Linked DNA regions of Homo sapiens: regions 2 and 3 are each linked to region 1. The links come from fine-mapping of genetic effects on gene expression. A gene starts in region 1. Each other region holds a variant in brackets. All regions are shown on one strand. Distances are between the middles of the regions.

Region 1 (5,227 bases):
GTAAGGTGCTTTCTAGTCTGCATCGGTTTTGTTGAGACTGCAATAGCAATGTATCCAAGGTCCAAACTAATGATTTGCCATCTGGTTTCATTTAGCAAAGTTAATGTTCGGTCATCAAGTACATATTCAGTAGGAAGTATTCTTTTTCGAAACAGTTTCTACAGTCATTTTTTTTTAACCCTGTATAAAATGAGTTTATTTTGGACTGTTAAAAAAATTCAAAACTTTAAAATTTGTTATTTTTCAACTAATGCAAAAGAATATATTAGAAACATCTGAATAAAAAATGATTCTGGGCTGGGCACGGTGGCTCACACCTTTAATCCCAGAATTTTGGAAGGCCGAGGTGGGCTGATCACCTGAGGTCAGGAGCTCGAGACCAGCCTGCCCAGCATGGTGAAACCCCGTCTTTACTAAAAATACAAAAATTAGCTGGTGTGGTGGCGGCTGCCTGTATTCCCAGCTACTTGGGAGGCTGAGACGGGAGAATCGTTTGAACCTGGGAGGTGGAGGTTGTAGTGAACAGAGATCATGCCATTGCACTCCAGCCTGGGCAACAAAGAGCGAAACTCCATCTAAAAAAAAAAAAAAAGATTCTGTTCTTTTCTGTATTTACTGATGTCCCTAAACATTTTACATTTTTTTTTAAAATTTAGGTTATCTCCCTATTAAAACTATTTACAAGTGACAGTGATGACTCCTGTTACTCAAAATTAAACCAAAATGAACATCAAACTGGGATTTATTGGGGCCCAGAAACAAGAAGATATAATTCATTCATTTGAAAATGATAAAGAGGGACTGAAATAATAGTGAGAAAGCTGCCCTGAGACCAGAGTAACTTTGTTTCTTTGATGTATCATTTACAGTAATAACCCAACGGGGTGCCAAGGGGCTGCCACTCTTTGGCTATGCTTTATTGTCCATTCACACTTTGTCTCCATGTTTCCTTCCCCCTTCCTCCTGTATACATGTATACAGAAGGGGGAAGGAAACATGGAGACAAAGTATGCATATACATATAGAAATTCTGGAGCAGTAACTTACTGATGTATACAACTTATCGAATCTCTCTGAGTTATGCTACTACCCCTAGTGTGTTGGGCATGTTGGCTCAAACTTCCTTAATCAGGAAACTTTGGAATGGGTTTATTGCTAGCTGTCTTTGCTTGGGTTTAATCTCAATATTTCTGAGGTGCAAAGTGCACTAGATTGAGAGTTAATAGATCTGAATTTTAATTCCAGTTTTGTTCCCAATGATCACTGTGACCTCAGGCACATCATTTCACCTTTCGTCGTTCATTCAGTTTATCTTACCTATTCATTAAAAACCAATCTGCCTGCCCCCAGTTGCTTTCTAGTGGTAGTGATGATGGAGGTGGTGAGAGACACAATAAATACATAAGCAAATAGGAGAACTATGAAGGAAGGAAAAGTTAGTGATGTACTAGGGATAGTGTACTTTTGATAGGGCATCTAGGATTTCTCTAGATAAGTGAAAAATGAAGAGGTTTAACTGGATGCTAAGGGGTCTTGCACATTAAAAGGCATGTGTTTCCGTCTTTTCACTACTGTGTTCTAGGAAGGCCCACCAATGCCTCTAACCTGTAAATAAATGCAAATCTATTTAAATCAAGTGATACATCAATTTTATGTTGCTTGATTTGGAAGTAATCCGCAAAGAAGCAATAGCTAAACATTTTAGTGTTGTTTGGGGAGTAGCTGCTGAACAATAAAGACCAAAACCATAACTAAAAAACAAACAAACAAACAAAAAAACGCAGCCCGAGACAGATCAGAAACTAGGTGTATGTAGGGCGCCAGGTTATGACACTGTTCTCTGACATCCACAGGGCGCAAAAAGAAAACCTCACTAGTCAGCTTCGCACGTGCTCTGCGCAGGGGCTCCTGCGAGGCCCTAGTCCCTCCCTGGGAGCTAAGAGCAGGACGGAGGCTGTACCTGACTGCTGCTTGGAGGGAACCCTGGCTGAGTCCAGGGAGGAGGAGCCAGAGGAGGGGCCGATTGGAAGCAGCCACCTCAGCGAAGCTGCAGGATTTCCGCAGGGCGGGAGCTGTTTATCTCCCGGAAGAAAACGGCTCCTGTCACAGAAGTCTCGTGATTGCTCTGGGAGCTTTGCTTAGACACTTGAAACTACAGGAGAAAGAAGGATCTAGCGAAATATGGCTACAGAGAGCCCTGCTACGCGTCGGGTCCAGGTGGCAGAACATCCTAGGTGGGGGAGAGGAGACGCCGGGCTTTGGGATCTGCTGGGTTGGCTACGTGTAGATCGGGTCCACAGCACTTGGCTCCTCCCTTGGGGCGCTGCTTTTGGTCCCGGGGAGCAAGTGGAACCCTTGGGATTCTATAAGGACACGTGGCTGGGCTTGCAAAAAAGATCACGCCGCAAACACATTCTACCTTGACTACTACGAAGGGTTGTATGTTTTTTTCTTCATCCATGCAGATTCTTCTTTTCCTTTTCTTGTTGTAATTAGTGTACTCTTTCTACTGGGCTTCAGCAGAAATGCCCATATCCACACTGAACTCCTCTCTTTGTCTCGCATGCCAGTTGATACTGCTTTTTAAAAGTCTTCTTTCTAAATATTAATTGAAAACAAACACAAAAACCTTCTTGGTGTCTGCATCCTCTTTAAAACAAAACAAAACAAAAACACGAGAATCTCTGAACTGTCACTTAGGGAATTAATTTGCTGGCAGTCCCTAGCTACACAGTAACTAATAGTTTAGTGATGTCTCGGGGAGGATCTTTTCAGTTACAGGTACTTTGTAGAAATACTTCGTTCTGACTAATGGGGCTGAGGTCTCATAAAATGAAGTCTGTCACCTGCTACATTAGCGAAGGGCTTTCCTGACTCTCTGCTTTTGCTGTTTTTCTTTTCTTTTCTTTCTTCCTTCCTTTCTTTTTTCTTTTTCTTTTTCTTTTTTTTTTTTTTTTTGAGACGGAGTTTTGCTCTTGTTGCCCAGGCTGGAGTGCAGTGGCGCCATCTTGGCTCACCGCAACCTCCGCCTCCCAGGTTCAAGCGATTCTCCTGTCTCAGCCTCCTGAGTAGGTGGGATTACAGGCAGGCGTCACCACACCCGGCTAATTTTGTATTTTCATCAGAGATGGGGTTTCTCTATGTTGGTCAGGCTGGTCTCGAGCTCCTGAGCTCAAGTGATCCGCTCACCCTGGCCTCCCAAAGTGCTGGGATTACAGACGTGAGCCATCGCGCCCGGCCCTCTGCCTTTGCTGTTTTCAGTTTTTTTCTGTTAGTTTTTTTCTCTGGCATCAAGTCCTTAAGCTCTTCCTACTTGGTGGTTTATTACCACCGTGTGTCAGTTGATGATATTATACTTTACTACAACTTGAAAATGTTCTTTCATCCTTAAACCAGCAAACAGTGTGTCTTTAGTTACCAGAAAGAAGCATGATTTCTTATTATAGAGTCCAGCACAGCTTTGGACTACTTCTCAATGTCTTTGAATGTTTTAATATACTCTAGAGGTTCTTGTATAGCACTGTTGCCCTTATATATTTGAATTAATTAAGACACACTGTTAAAGGCATGCTTCCAATAAGATTAATGAGAAATTTGTTACATGAAAATAACTTGATCTCTTGTAGTTTAGTCTTATTTTTTTTTTTTGAGACAGAGTCTTGTTCTGTTGCCCAGGCTGGAGTATAGTGGCGCAGTCTCCGCTCACTGCAACCTCCACCTCCCAGGTTCAATCCATTCTCCTGCCTTAGCCTCCAGAGTAGCTGGGATTACAAGTGCCCGCCACCACGCCCCGTTATTTTTTTGTGTTTTTGGTAGAGACGGAGTTTCGCCATGTTGGCCAGGCTGGTCTCCAACTTGTGACCTCAAGTGATCCGCCCGTCTCAGCCTCCCAAATTGCTGGGATTACAGGCGTGAGCCACCGTGCCACGTCTATAGTTTAATCTTCTACATAAAACATACCCATGTGTAAATTCCTAATGTGTTTCCATTTTATGTGATTGTAATAATAAAGATCAACATTTCTATCTATATTTACCCTGTTTGGGGGAGGATGGTGGTAACAAGTATAGGTACATGTACTAAAAGTGAAGAATTGTTTACTGAATTTCCTTAGTGTTCTTCTTGCTTTTCATGATTTTTATATTATTCATGTAACAAATATTTATTGTTAATATTTATTCTGTGTTATCCACAGAAGAGATCATAGTAGATAAGCTCTGCCGTTTTCTTGTTTTTCATTTGTGCACAAAATGCAATTATTAGCTTCAAGCAATGTTTTATTTGCAGGAATGTTTTGCAGCCACTTACTCATTCTAGGAGGGATGTATTTTATTAAATCTAAATAGTATAATCTATAAATTCACCTAACCGGTCAAGTATTGCAATATGCTGAGAAGGAAAAAAAATGAATGAATGGTCAGCCTGCTTTCTTGTGGAACTCTTATTCTTTTTCCAGGATGCCTCTTCAACCTCACAAGGCACATGATCCTTTGAGTAAAGGCACTGGTCAACCATATCATACATTTTAGTAAAACTTAATTTTATTTTTATTATTTTTATGTAAAAATCAAATAGAAATTGAAGTTCTAATATTTTCTTTCTGTGTCCCACTCTTGCATGGTACCGGTACCGTAAGACTCTGAATTTCACTGTTCTGGCTTTCTTTGCATTCTTAGCAGTTGTATCTCTTATCTTTACTTTCTCTTTTGGATTAAGTTTTAAAACTTGTTGGATTATTGCTATTTTTGTAGCAGTTTTATTGACATTCACGTATCATATAACTAATTCATTTAAAGTTTGCAATTAAATGGGTTTAATGTATTCATAGAGCTATGCAACCATCACCATAATCAAATTTAGAACGTTTTCTTAGAAAGAACCCAGCCATCCCTTAGATTATCACACCCCAGAACTCCATTCCCTTTCCCCTCACCTAGCCTTAAACAACTACTGCTCTGTTTTCTGTATTTATAGATTTAGTCACTTTGGGCATTTCAAATGAATGGAATCATATAAAATGTGTGTTTTTTTGGTGACTGGCTTCTTCCATGTGGCATAATGTTCTGAAGGTTCATGTATCAGTACATCATTTAACATGTATCAGTATATCATTCCTTTTTATGGTTAAATAATATTCTAGCTTATGGATATACATTTTGTTTATACATTCAACAATTGATGGACATTTGGGTTGCTTCTATCTTTTGGCTCTTATGAATAATGCTGC
Region 2 (5,227 bases), 53 kb after region 1:
TCAAGAGGGTGTTTGTTCCTGAATGTATTTTCTTGGTACCTTTGTTGAAAATGAGTTTGCTGGCCGAGCGTGGTGGCTCATGCCTATAATCCCTGCACTTTGGGAGGCTGAGGCAGGCAGATCACCTGAGGTCAGGAGTTTGAGACCAGCCTGGCCAACATGATGAAGCCCTGTCTCTATTAAAAATACAAAAAATTAGCTGGGTGTGGTGGTGCGTGCCTATAATCCCAGCTACTCAGGAGGCTGAGGCAGGAGAATTGCTTGAGCCCAGGAGGTGGAGGTTGCAGTGAGCCGAGATCGTGACACTGCACTCCAGCCTGGGCAACAAGAGCAAAATCTCTGTCTTGAAAAAAATAAAAAAATTAAAAAAAAAAGAAAATGAGTTTGCTGTACATACATGGATGTATTTCTGGGTTCTCCCTTCTGTCCCATTATTACTTGTGTCTGTTTTGATACCAATACCTTGCTGTTTGGGTTTTTATAGCCTTATAATATATTTTGAGGTCAGATAGCGTGACCCCTCTTGCTTTGTTCTTTTTCCTCAGGAGTGCTTTGGCTATTTGGGCTCTTTTTTTTGGTTTTATACATATTTTAGGATATTTTTCTATTTTTGTGAAAATGACAGTAGTATTTTCATAGGGATTGCATTGAATTTGTAGACTGCTTTGGGCAGTATGTTCATTTTAACAATATTAATTTTTTCCAATCCATGAACATGGGATGTCTTTTCATTTGTTTGTGTCCTCTTCAATTTCATTCATCAGTGTTTTCTAGTTTTCCTTAGAGATCTTTCATCTCCTTGGTTAAATTTATTCTTAGGTATTTTTTTTTGTAGCTATTATAAACAGCATTTCTGGCTTAATTTCTTTCTCAGCTAGTTCATTATTGATGTATTGAAATGCTGCAAATTTTTGTATGTTGGTTTTTTATACTGCAACTTTACTGAATTTATTTATTAGGTGTAAGAGTTTTTTTTAGAGTCTAGGTTTTTCTGGATATAAAATCATGTCACCTGTGAAACAGGACAATTTAACTTCCTCCATTTCAACTTGGATCCTTCTATTTTTATTCTTGCCTGATTATTCTGGCTAAAATTTCTAGTATTATGTTGACTAGGAGTAGTGATATTGGTCATCTTTTTTGGGTTCCAGGTTTTACAGGAAAGGCTTCAACTTTTCTTTATTTGATATGATGTTAGCTGTGGGTTTGTCATATGAGACTTTTATTGTGTTGTGGTATATTTATTCTATGCCTGATAATTGAGAGTTTTTATCGTGAAAGGATGTTGAATTTTATTACATGCTTTCTCTATGTCTATTGAGATGATTATGTGGTTTCTGTCCTTTATTCTACTGATGCGATGTGTCACATTTAGTGATTTGTGTTTCTTGAACAATCCTTGCATCCCTGGGATAAATCCCGCTTGATCATGGTGTTTTATCTTTTTGATGTGCTGTGGGATTCAGTTTGCGGCAATTTTGTTGAAGATTTTTACATATATGTAAATAGGGATCTTGGCCTGCAGTTTTGGTTTTTGTTACACCTTTCTCTAATTTTAGCATCAGAGTGATGCTTGCCTTTTGGGACTAGGTTAATTCCCTTCTCTTCAATTCATTGGAATTGTTTGAAGAGGATTGGTATTTGTTCTTTGTAAGTTTGGTAGAATTTTTCAGTGAAGCTGTCCAGTCTTGGGCTTTTCTTTGTTGGAAGCCTTTTCATTTTACTGTTTCAATCTTGGTACTTGTTACTAGTCTGTTTATGTTTTTTGTTTCTTCCTGATTTAATCTTGGTATGTTGTGTGTTTAGGAATTTATCAATTTCCTTTAGGTTTTCTGGTTTGTTTGTGTATAGTATAGTTGTTCATAACAGTGTCTGATAAGCTTTTGTATTTCCATGGTATCAGTTGTAATGTCCTTTTTTGATTCTGATTTTGTTTATTTGGGTCTTCTCACTTTTTTTCGTGGTTAATCTGGCTAGCAGTTTATCAATTTTGTTCTTCTTTTCAAATAATCAACTTTCCATTTTCTTGATTCTTTGTATTTTTTCAGTAAAATAATTTCAACTTTTATTTTAGATTCAGGGGTTACATGTGCAGGTTTGTTACTTGGATACATTTTGTAATGGTGATGTTTGGGGTACAGATGATCCCATCACCCAGGTAGTTAGCATAGCAGCCAATAGGCAGTTTTTCAGCCCACACTTCCTGCCTCCCTACTGCCCCCGCCATTGCTTACTAGTCCTCAGTGTCTATTGTTCCCATCTTTATGTCCCTGTGTACTCATATTTAGCTCCCACTTATAAGTGAGAACATGCAGCAGTACTTGATTTTCTTCCTGTGTTAATTTGCTTAGGACTATAGCCTCCAGCTGCATCCATGTTGTCGCAAAGGATATGATTTCATCCTTTTTATGGCTGCATAGTATTCCCTGGTGTATGTATACCACAGTTTCTTTATCCAGCCCACCATTGATGGGCACCTGCGTTGATTCCATGTGTTTGCTATGGTAAATAGTGCTTCAATGAACATATGAGTGCATGTGTCTTTTTTTTTTTAGAATAATTTATTTTCCTATGGGTATATACCCAGTAATGGGATTGCTGGGTTAAATGGTAGTTCTGTTTTAAGTTCTGTGAGGAAACTCCAAACTGCTTTCCACAGTGGCTGAACTAATTTACACTCCCACCAAGAGTGTATAAGCATTCCTTTTTCTACACAGCCTTGCCAGCATCTGTTTCTTGTTGACATTTACATAATAGCCATTCTGACTGGAGTGAGATGGTATCTCATTGTGGTTTTGATTTGCATTTGTATGTCTTCCTTTGAGAAGTGTTTGTTCATATACTTTGCCCATTTTTAAGTGGGATTATTTGTTTTTTGCTT[GTTTA/G]TTTGTTTACAATGTTTACAGATTCTGATATTAGACCTTTGTCAGATGCATAGTTTGTGAATATTTTCTCTCATTTTGTGAGTTATCTGTTTACTCTGTTGATAGTTTCTTTCGCTGTGCAGAACCTCTTTAATTAGGTCTCACTTGTCAATTTTTGTTTTTATCACAGTTGCTTTTGGAGATTTAGCCATAAAATCTTGGCCAAATTCTAAGCATTTCCTAGGTTTTCTTCTAGGATTCATACAGCTTGAGGTCTTATATTTAAATCTTTTATCCATCTTGAATAAATTTTTATATATGCTGAAAGATAGGGGTCCAGTTTCATTCTACTGCATACGGCTAACCAGTTATACCAGCACCATTTATTGAATAGGGAGCCCTTCCTTCATTGCTTGTTTTTGTTGACTTTGTGGAAGATCAGATGGATGTAGGTGTTCAGCTTTATTTCTGGGTTTTCTATTCTGTTCTATAAGTCTATGTCTGTGTATCTGTTTTTGTACCAATACTATGCTGTTTTGGTTACTATAGCCTTGTAGTATAATTTGAAGTTGGGTAATGTGATAACTCCAATTTTTTTCCTTTTACTTTAGTTTTTTCACTGATTCTCCTCTGAGAGAAGTGGTGTTCTTTTAACTGTGGTTTAAATGGAGGATAGTCAATTGGCTTCATTTCTGGTTGCTTTCAGAGGGCCAAGGCTCTGTACAGGATCTTTATTTGTGGCTAGATTCTTGCCCCTGGTTTCACAAGTGATGTATATTGGCAGATTATTTTTGGTGTTTTAATTTGGGATGTGATCCAGTAAATGGTGCTTAAGAGTGGTGGCCAGCAGATAGGCTCTTAATCAGCTTCACAGCTTTTTTTGTATTTCAGTGCATTTGCAGTAGTGGTCTATAGTGGGGTAGGGGGAGACAGATGACCCTCTCAGCAGGTCTGTTCCTGAGCTTTGAGGAAGCCGCCTCTGATCACTGGCACTGATCCTGTCTTTTTCTTTAATTAGGTCTTCCGGGCTGCAGGGCTCCCTCAGGCAGAGGCTATGACCTGCAGATAGGCCACACCATTCTTGGACTGGTCCTGTAGAGCAGGGTTCCCCAATCCCTGTTACTGCTTCATGGCCTGTTCAGAAGTGGGCCACACAGCAGGAGGTGAGTGGTGGGTGAGTGAGCATTATTACCACCTGAGCTCGGTCTCCCGTCAGATCAGCAGTGGCATTAGACTGTCATGGAAGCATGAACCCTATTGTGGACTGCATGTGGGAGGGATCTAGGTTGCATGCTCCTTATGATAATCCAATGCTTGATGATCTGAGGTAGAACAGTTTCAACCTGAAACCATCCCCTCCTCCCCAACATACACCATCCATGGAAAAATTGTCTTCCACAAAACTGGTCCCTGTGCTAAAAAGGTTGGGGACTGCTGCTGTAGAGGGAGAGATGCCCTTCTCTGGTGCTGGCTTACAAGCCTCTGTGTTTCACTCCTCTCTGTCTTCTGAGGGTGTGGGCTCCTTCCCTGCTCTAGCACTGGCTACAGATCTTGGCTCAAGATTCCCAAGCTGCATGCTGCAGCCCTGAGCTGTTGGGACTGGCCCACAGCTCCATCTTTTGGCTCCCTTTGGCACAGCACCAACTGTGCTGGGGGATTCCAACTGCTTCCAGACCTCTGAGAAAGTACTCAGGCTGGCCTTTTGATAAAGCACCCATACTGGGCAGTGGAGGCTGCACTGTACTCATGTTCCTGTTAGAGCAGCTGGGCAGAGGCCTTGGAAGGGGCTGGTGGGCAGGAGTGCCTGCAGAACAGACATGCCCCATTCCCACTGGAAAGTCAGCCCTGTTCTCTTGACCCAGTGGTCAACTGGGGTTAGAGTTACTCAGAGGAAGAAGGGGAGCGTTGGGGGATGGGCACCTATGGCTGTATTCTGCTTGCGGCTGTCATGTGTGCCAAACCTCCATTCCATATAGGCTGGAGTACTTTTACTGCCTACTCTCCAGGCAGATCCCCTTGCCAGTTTAAATGTTTATGGGCGTCATAGGATCTCTTGTACCTAGGATTGGAGATCTGCAGCAAGAGTGGGTTGCCCCACTATCCCTTCACTAACCCCTCCCTCAGGAGGCTTTCAGGGCTGAGCATGAGCCCTAGCATTCAGCAACCCCACACAAGGTTCCCAGCTTCTTCTCTTTTCAGCCTCAGTGTCAGTGTTGCTTCTCTATCTACTCTTGGTGTTTTCTGTCTAAGATTTGCTCAAAGTTTATTAGTTTACTTAATTTTTAGTCTCGTTCAGTGGGAGTGGTGCTTCCTGGCTGTGTCTAGTCAGCCACCTTATCTGCTATCCCTCCAAAAGCTTTAAC
Region 3 (5,227 bases), 150 kb after region 1:
GATCATACTGCACATCCCTCAGTGCTGTGATGAGAACTTTATGAGGTAGTACTTTTCTTTCTTTCTTTTTTTTTTTTTTGAGACGGAGTCGTGCTCTATCGCCCAGGCTGGAGTGCAACGGCGTGATCTCAGCTCACTGCAACCTCTGCCTCCCAGGTTCAAGCAATTCTCCCACTTCAGTCTCTCAAATAGCTGGGATTACATGCACCCACCATCATCATGCCCAGGTAATTTTTGTACTTTTAGTAGAGATGGGTTTTCACCATGTTGGTCAGGCTGGTCTTGAACTCCTGACCTCAGATGATCCACCTGCCTCGGCCTCCCAAAGTGCTGGGATTACGGATGTGAGCTACCGCGCCTGGCCTACACAAAGTAGTATTTTAAAGTGTTTGGCATGTAGGGTGTACTCATTACATGTTAGGTCTGTCTTCATTTGGGATGGATTAGATTGCACACAAGTATATGCACATGTGTGTTGAGTGAAGTGAAGGAAATATAGTTACAAGATTTTATTCAGTATCAAGAAAAAAGTAAACCTGACTTGCCGATAGACACATTTCAATTGAAAGAATCCTTTCAGCAAGAGAGACCTATTGAAGTTTAAGATACTGATAATGAAAACAGAAATGAAAGTCTTTAAAAGTGTATTTTTCTTTATACTGGGTTGTCCAGTAACTATTCCTAACCTCCTTCCCCATCCTCTTCCTTCCTCAGTGCTCATCTTCAAACTCTATCAGCGGGCAAAGCATGTGTACAGCGAGGCTGCGCGAGTGCTCCAGTTTAAGAAGATATGTGAAGAAGCACCTGAAAACATGGTCCAGCTGCTGGGAGAGTTGATGAACCAGAGCCACATGAGCTGCCGGGACATGTATGAGTGCAGCTGCCCCGAGCTGGATCAGCTGGTGGACATCTGTCGGTGAGGCAGCCTGGTGGGGGCCAAGGGATGCCATCAAATAATATTGTTTAAATTAATGGAAAAAAATGCAACATTTCATAATCTACGGGAATGAAGATCATTCCCCACTTCCTATATGAGGAGTCTCTGATGATACAGAGCTACACTTGTTCCCTTCTAAATACCTGTAGGATGAAAGATTTGCTACCTGGCTCCATGATTTTATGAGGCTCTGGGTTTGGAGTCAGTTTGGAGTCAGCTCTTTACATCATGAGAAAGACCTTTCCGTCTTTGGATGATTAGGCCTTTCAGGATGGTAACTTTGCTCAGAGCTGGGCCCTGTTAACTTTCTTATGATATGTTTTATTATACTGCTGCTCTGCCAGAAACTCCTGTCCAGTGTCCTAATTAAGTTTAGTAGTTCTACTCAGAAGAAGGGAGAAAACTGACAGAGGATCTCAAGCTTGATGGGAGCATGTGGGGAGATTTGCTGAAGGAATCACCCAGAAAGCCAGCATTTCCTGCCTTCTAGGTTTAGTTTAGGCAGTTTGAGGAAATAAAGGCTGAAGAAAGCCCAGGTGATACATGGTTAATAGAGGCAGAAATGTAAAGAGGACAACTCTTTCACAAAGCCTAAAATCAGCTTTCCTAAAATTGTGAAAGAATGGAGATAACAGAGTTAGTCCTCTTACCCAGGAAGGAGCTCAGTGACCCTGGGAGAACTGAAACTGGGAAAGTTCTCAAACGCTAGATGTTACTTCACTGTGAGAACACAATGCTACACTACAATTAGTAATGGAAATGTAATTAACCACTTGGCACTTGTGGCTTGCCTCAGTCATTGCCACACTCCCAGCCTGAAAAGTTTAAACCAAGTAACTCCAGTGATCACAAATGGCCTGGGTAATCCAGCTTGTCAAAAGACTTGAACACAGCATTGATGAAGATCACTCTGCTGACATGTTTGCTCACTCATTTCCAAAAGCCTTCCCCAGCTTGTTTCATTTTAAGTACCCTTTTCTGAAAATATCAAGGGCCTAGTATATGGAAGGGACAAATATTGTTCAGTTCTGGAAATAAGAGGAAGTGGAATTATTTCTGCAGAGATCAGGAAGAAATGTCTTTGCCTGGAAGGAAGTGGGATGGTTGGAATCCCACCTGAAAAGCTGCGGAAGGGCATTTGCCAGCTTCCTGGAATTCTCTAATAAACTTTCTCTTCCTAGAGTGGTCAACCTGTACTTGTTTTCATGGAGCTTACATTCTCGTGGGGAAAGAGAGAAATGACAATTAAAAATAATTTGAATGGTAGTGATAAGTGCTATGGAAAAAAATGAGAAGGAATAGAGACTACAGGTTTGGGTGGGTACTCTTTCTGTGGAGTGGTTGAAGAAGGTCACTCTGACGAAGAGATCTTTGAGCAGAGGCCTGAAGGAGGTGAATAAATGAGAACAGCAAATGCATAGGCCCTGAGGTGGATACTTGGCTGTCAGGTGTGAGGCTCAGCAGGATCAGCATGGCAGAGGGCCAGGAAGGAAGGAGAGGTAGTAGATGAAGTAAGGAAGGAAGTGGGGAGCCACACCATATAGGCCGTGTAGGCCATCGGAAGGCTTCTGGCTTTGAGAAGAGAAAGGGGGCAATGGAAATGCTAGGCAATTCTATGCCAAATATGCCTGCAAGGAAGACTTAGATAATTGCTGTGTGGGTATAAGAGAGAAATCAAGACGACTCCTGGGTTTTTGTCCTGAGAAACTTTCCTTGTGCCTCTAAAAGCCACATTTTTGAAAAGCACACTTCACCACTGTAGGTAAGAGTTATCTTAGAGTACCATAAAATATTAGATCAGGAAGGGGTCTTAGAGATCCAGGAAGGCACTAAGAGATGAAATAATTTGAGTAAGTTTCACATATGAGTTCATTGGAAAGCCTGGCTCCCAATCCAATGATTTTGCCACACGTGCCTCTCCCCTTGGGTTATACTAAGATGTGATTACACTTAAATGTGGGTCATACATACGTGTGTGTACGTGTGTGTTTGTAACCTATTTTCATCTCCTAGCTTTGAAGCTTTATGATGGAGGCCTTTGTTGTCATAGTTTCCAG[C/T]ATTTGAACATTAAGCAAAGTCATGTTGAGCAGGAACGTAATGTGTAGAGTAGGATGAAAAGTGGGCTGGAAGTGAGGAAGCTTGGATTCCGACTCTCTTTTCATTCTGAGCTCTGTGAGCTGGAACTGTTGCTTCGCTTTGTGTTCTCCATTGGCTTTTTCTGTTCTAGCAGTCTACAGACCTATACATTTAAAAAATATGGTTCTAGTGAAAAAGCTTATGGCTATGTCTTAAATGGGTTTGGAAGAGTACCTTTTATTTATCTTTTCATTTTGTTTGTTTTTGGAAAATCCTTTCTTAATGGCAGCTAAAGTGTTTCATTTTCATTTGCTGTATTTATTTTCTGAGAAAAATTCAGTTCTGTGAAAAATTCAGGAGCTCCATCACTTTTTCATGATTGTTTTGTTTGGAAAGCCAATTGCTAAGTATCAAAGTTATTTTCTACTTATTCGATAACCATATAGGGTCCAAGTTTTCCATATTGAAAGATTATCTTCTGGCTTGTTGGCCAGAATAGTTGTCTGGTCCTTAAAGCTTCTTATATAATTAATTTTTTCTTTGCTGTCACTGTGACCAGCAGATAATATTCTTCAAATGTTTCAGTTGGCTGCAAGTTACTGAAAGGTCCTAAGTGGCAGAGCAACCTCAGAGGAGGATAGCCCCAGGGGAATTAAGTTGATGCAGGCATTATGTCCTTCCCTCCTTCAATCAATACATATTTTCACATGGGTATCTTTGTACCGTGTGAAATTGCAGTCTATTCTCTACTTTCAAAAGCTGTGACTTTCTCTTGCCGGGCCCAATTGCTCACACCTGTAATCCCAGCACTTTGGGAGGCCAAGGCGGGCAGATCATGAGGTCAGGAGATCGAGATCATCCTGGCTAACACGGTGAAACCCCATCTCTATTAAAAATACAAAAAATTAGCCGAGCGTGGCGGCATGCGCCTGTAGTCCCAGCTACTCGGGAGGCTGAGGCGGGAGAATGGCGTGAACCCGGGAGGCAGAGCTTGCAGTGAGCCGAGATCGCAACACTGCCCTCCAGCCTGTGGGACAGAGCAAGACTCCATCTCAGGTAAAAAAAAAAAAAAAAGAAAAAAAAAAAAAGATGTCTGGAAAGTAATGAGGCAAGAAGGAGGGGTTCAGAAGAATGCAGAAATTAGTGGGAATAAGATAAAGGATGGATAAAGGATGGGGAAGACAGACGGTACAAGAGTAGCAGGTAGTAACATGGGGAAAGGTTCGAATGAACAGTGGAGCTACTTGTAAGCCCTAGTTCCTTCTGAAGCCTTGTGACTGTCTCACTGGGTCAGGCAGAGAAGGTGTTGGACATACTGGAAGGGGTCCTGGCAAGGCCTGGTGTGAGCCACTGGTGCCACAGACACAACCTCTAGCAAAGTATTGCTTTGTTTAAAAACCACCACCACCTCCACAATTACCCTGCCACCATTAAAAATGTTAACATCAGTAGGGAAGGTGTGACTAAGACTGGGCAGCCTGAGCAGGTTGCTTGTTTTCCCCAAAAGAGGGAGGAGGAGGGAAGCTGAAATGGGTTCAAGGAGGAGCACTGCCAAAAATAATCTTTACATCACCCTCCCTGGTCCACTTATGGCACTTCAAAATTCCTTTAGTGTTTCTGAAGGGCTTCTTGGAAACTATTTGTATGAAAAGACAACTAATTGAGTGAGTAAATTAACGGCTTGAATACCTAGAATACCTAAGTTGCTATACACAAGCAGAAAATCTTACAGTGATCTGAGCTAGACTGAATTAAAAAGGCATCTCCTACTTAGCATATAGGACAATGTATAGAACAACTTTGTGACCCAAGTGGAGAGAAGGGGGGTTGGGAAAGAGCACCACTGCTAGCTGTCTTTTTCAGTTGAACCTTTTCCTGCTCTTCAAGAGAAAATCAGTTTAGAATCTAAAGAAAGGAGCAGGGAGGATGAAGGAAACTATACTTACAGAGTGAGGCTTTTTTAAAAAATTAAATTAATGTTAGAACTTAAATTATATGAAACAAAGTAAATAATGAAGGAAAAAGATAATGTTTGCTGAATTATAAAGTATCTTTTGTAGCCAAACAAAATGTAAACAGAAAGAAATGACTAAATTTTAAGTAGAATTTACTGGAGAACACAAAACAATTTTGAAACCAAGTCAGTTATATGTGAGACAGCTCATTCACTATTGGTTCCCTCGTTTTACTTAAGACAAAATGGTTAATGCCTTT

Evidence for each region. PIP is the estimated chance that this variant, and not a neighbour inherited with it, causes the effect.
Region 2: its variant is fine-mapped to the expression of GALK2 in blood mononuclear cells (TOPMed, PIP 0.96).
Region 3: its variant is fine-mapped to the expression of GALK2 in whole blood (TOPMed, PIP 0.99).

The regions. Positions count from the first base shown.
Region 1 is chr15:49,168,142-49,173,368 of GRCh38, forward strand. It overlaps GALK2 (galactokinase 2), which reads left to right and starts at 2,106. Exons shown (of 10, transcript NM_002044.4): 1 at 2,106-2,234. The coding sequence starts at 2,182. MIR4716 (microRNA 4716) reads right to left here and starts at 1,012; the gene lies at 929-1,012. RefSeq lists enhancers at 1,518-2,422, 2,054-2,293.
Region 2 is chr15:49,221,323-49,226,549 of GRCh38, forward strand. The region is part of intron 3 of GALK2 (galactokinase 2); the gene reads left to right. Among named protein-coding and RNA genes, the nearest start is that of GALK2, 54 kb to the left of the region's middle. The variant GTTTA/G (reference allele first, on the strand shown) is at 2,882.
Region 3 is chr15:49,318,890-49,324,116 of GRCh38, forward strand. GALK2 (galactokinase 2) reads left to right here. Exons shown (of 10, transcript NM_002044.4): 9 at 715-916. Among named protein-coding and RNA genes, the nearest start is that of FGF7, 100 kb to the right of the region's middle. The variant C/T (reference allele first, on the strand shown) is at 2,995.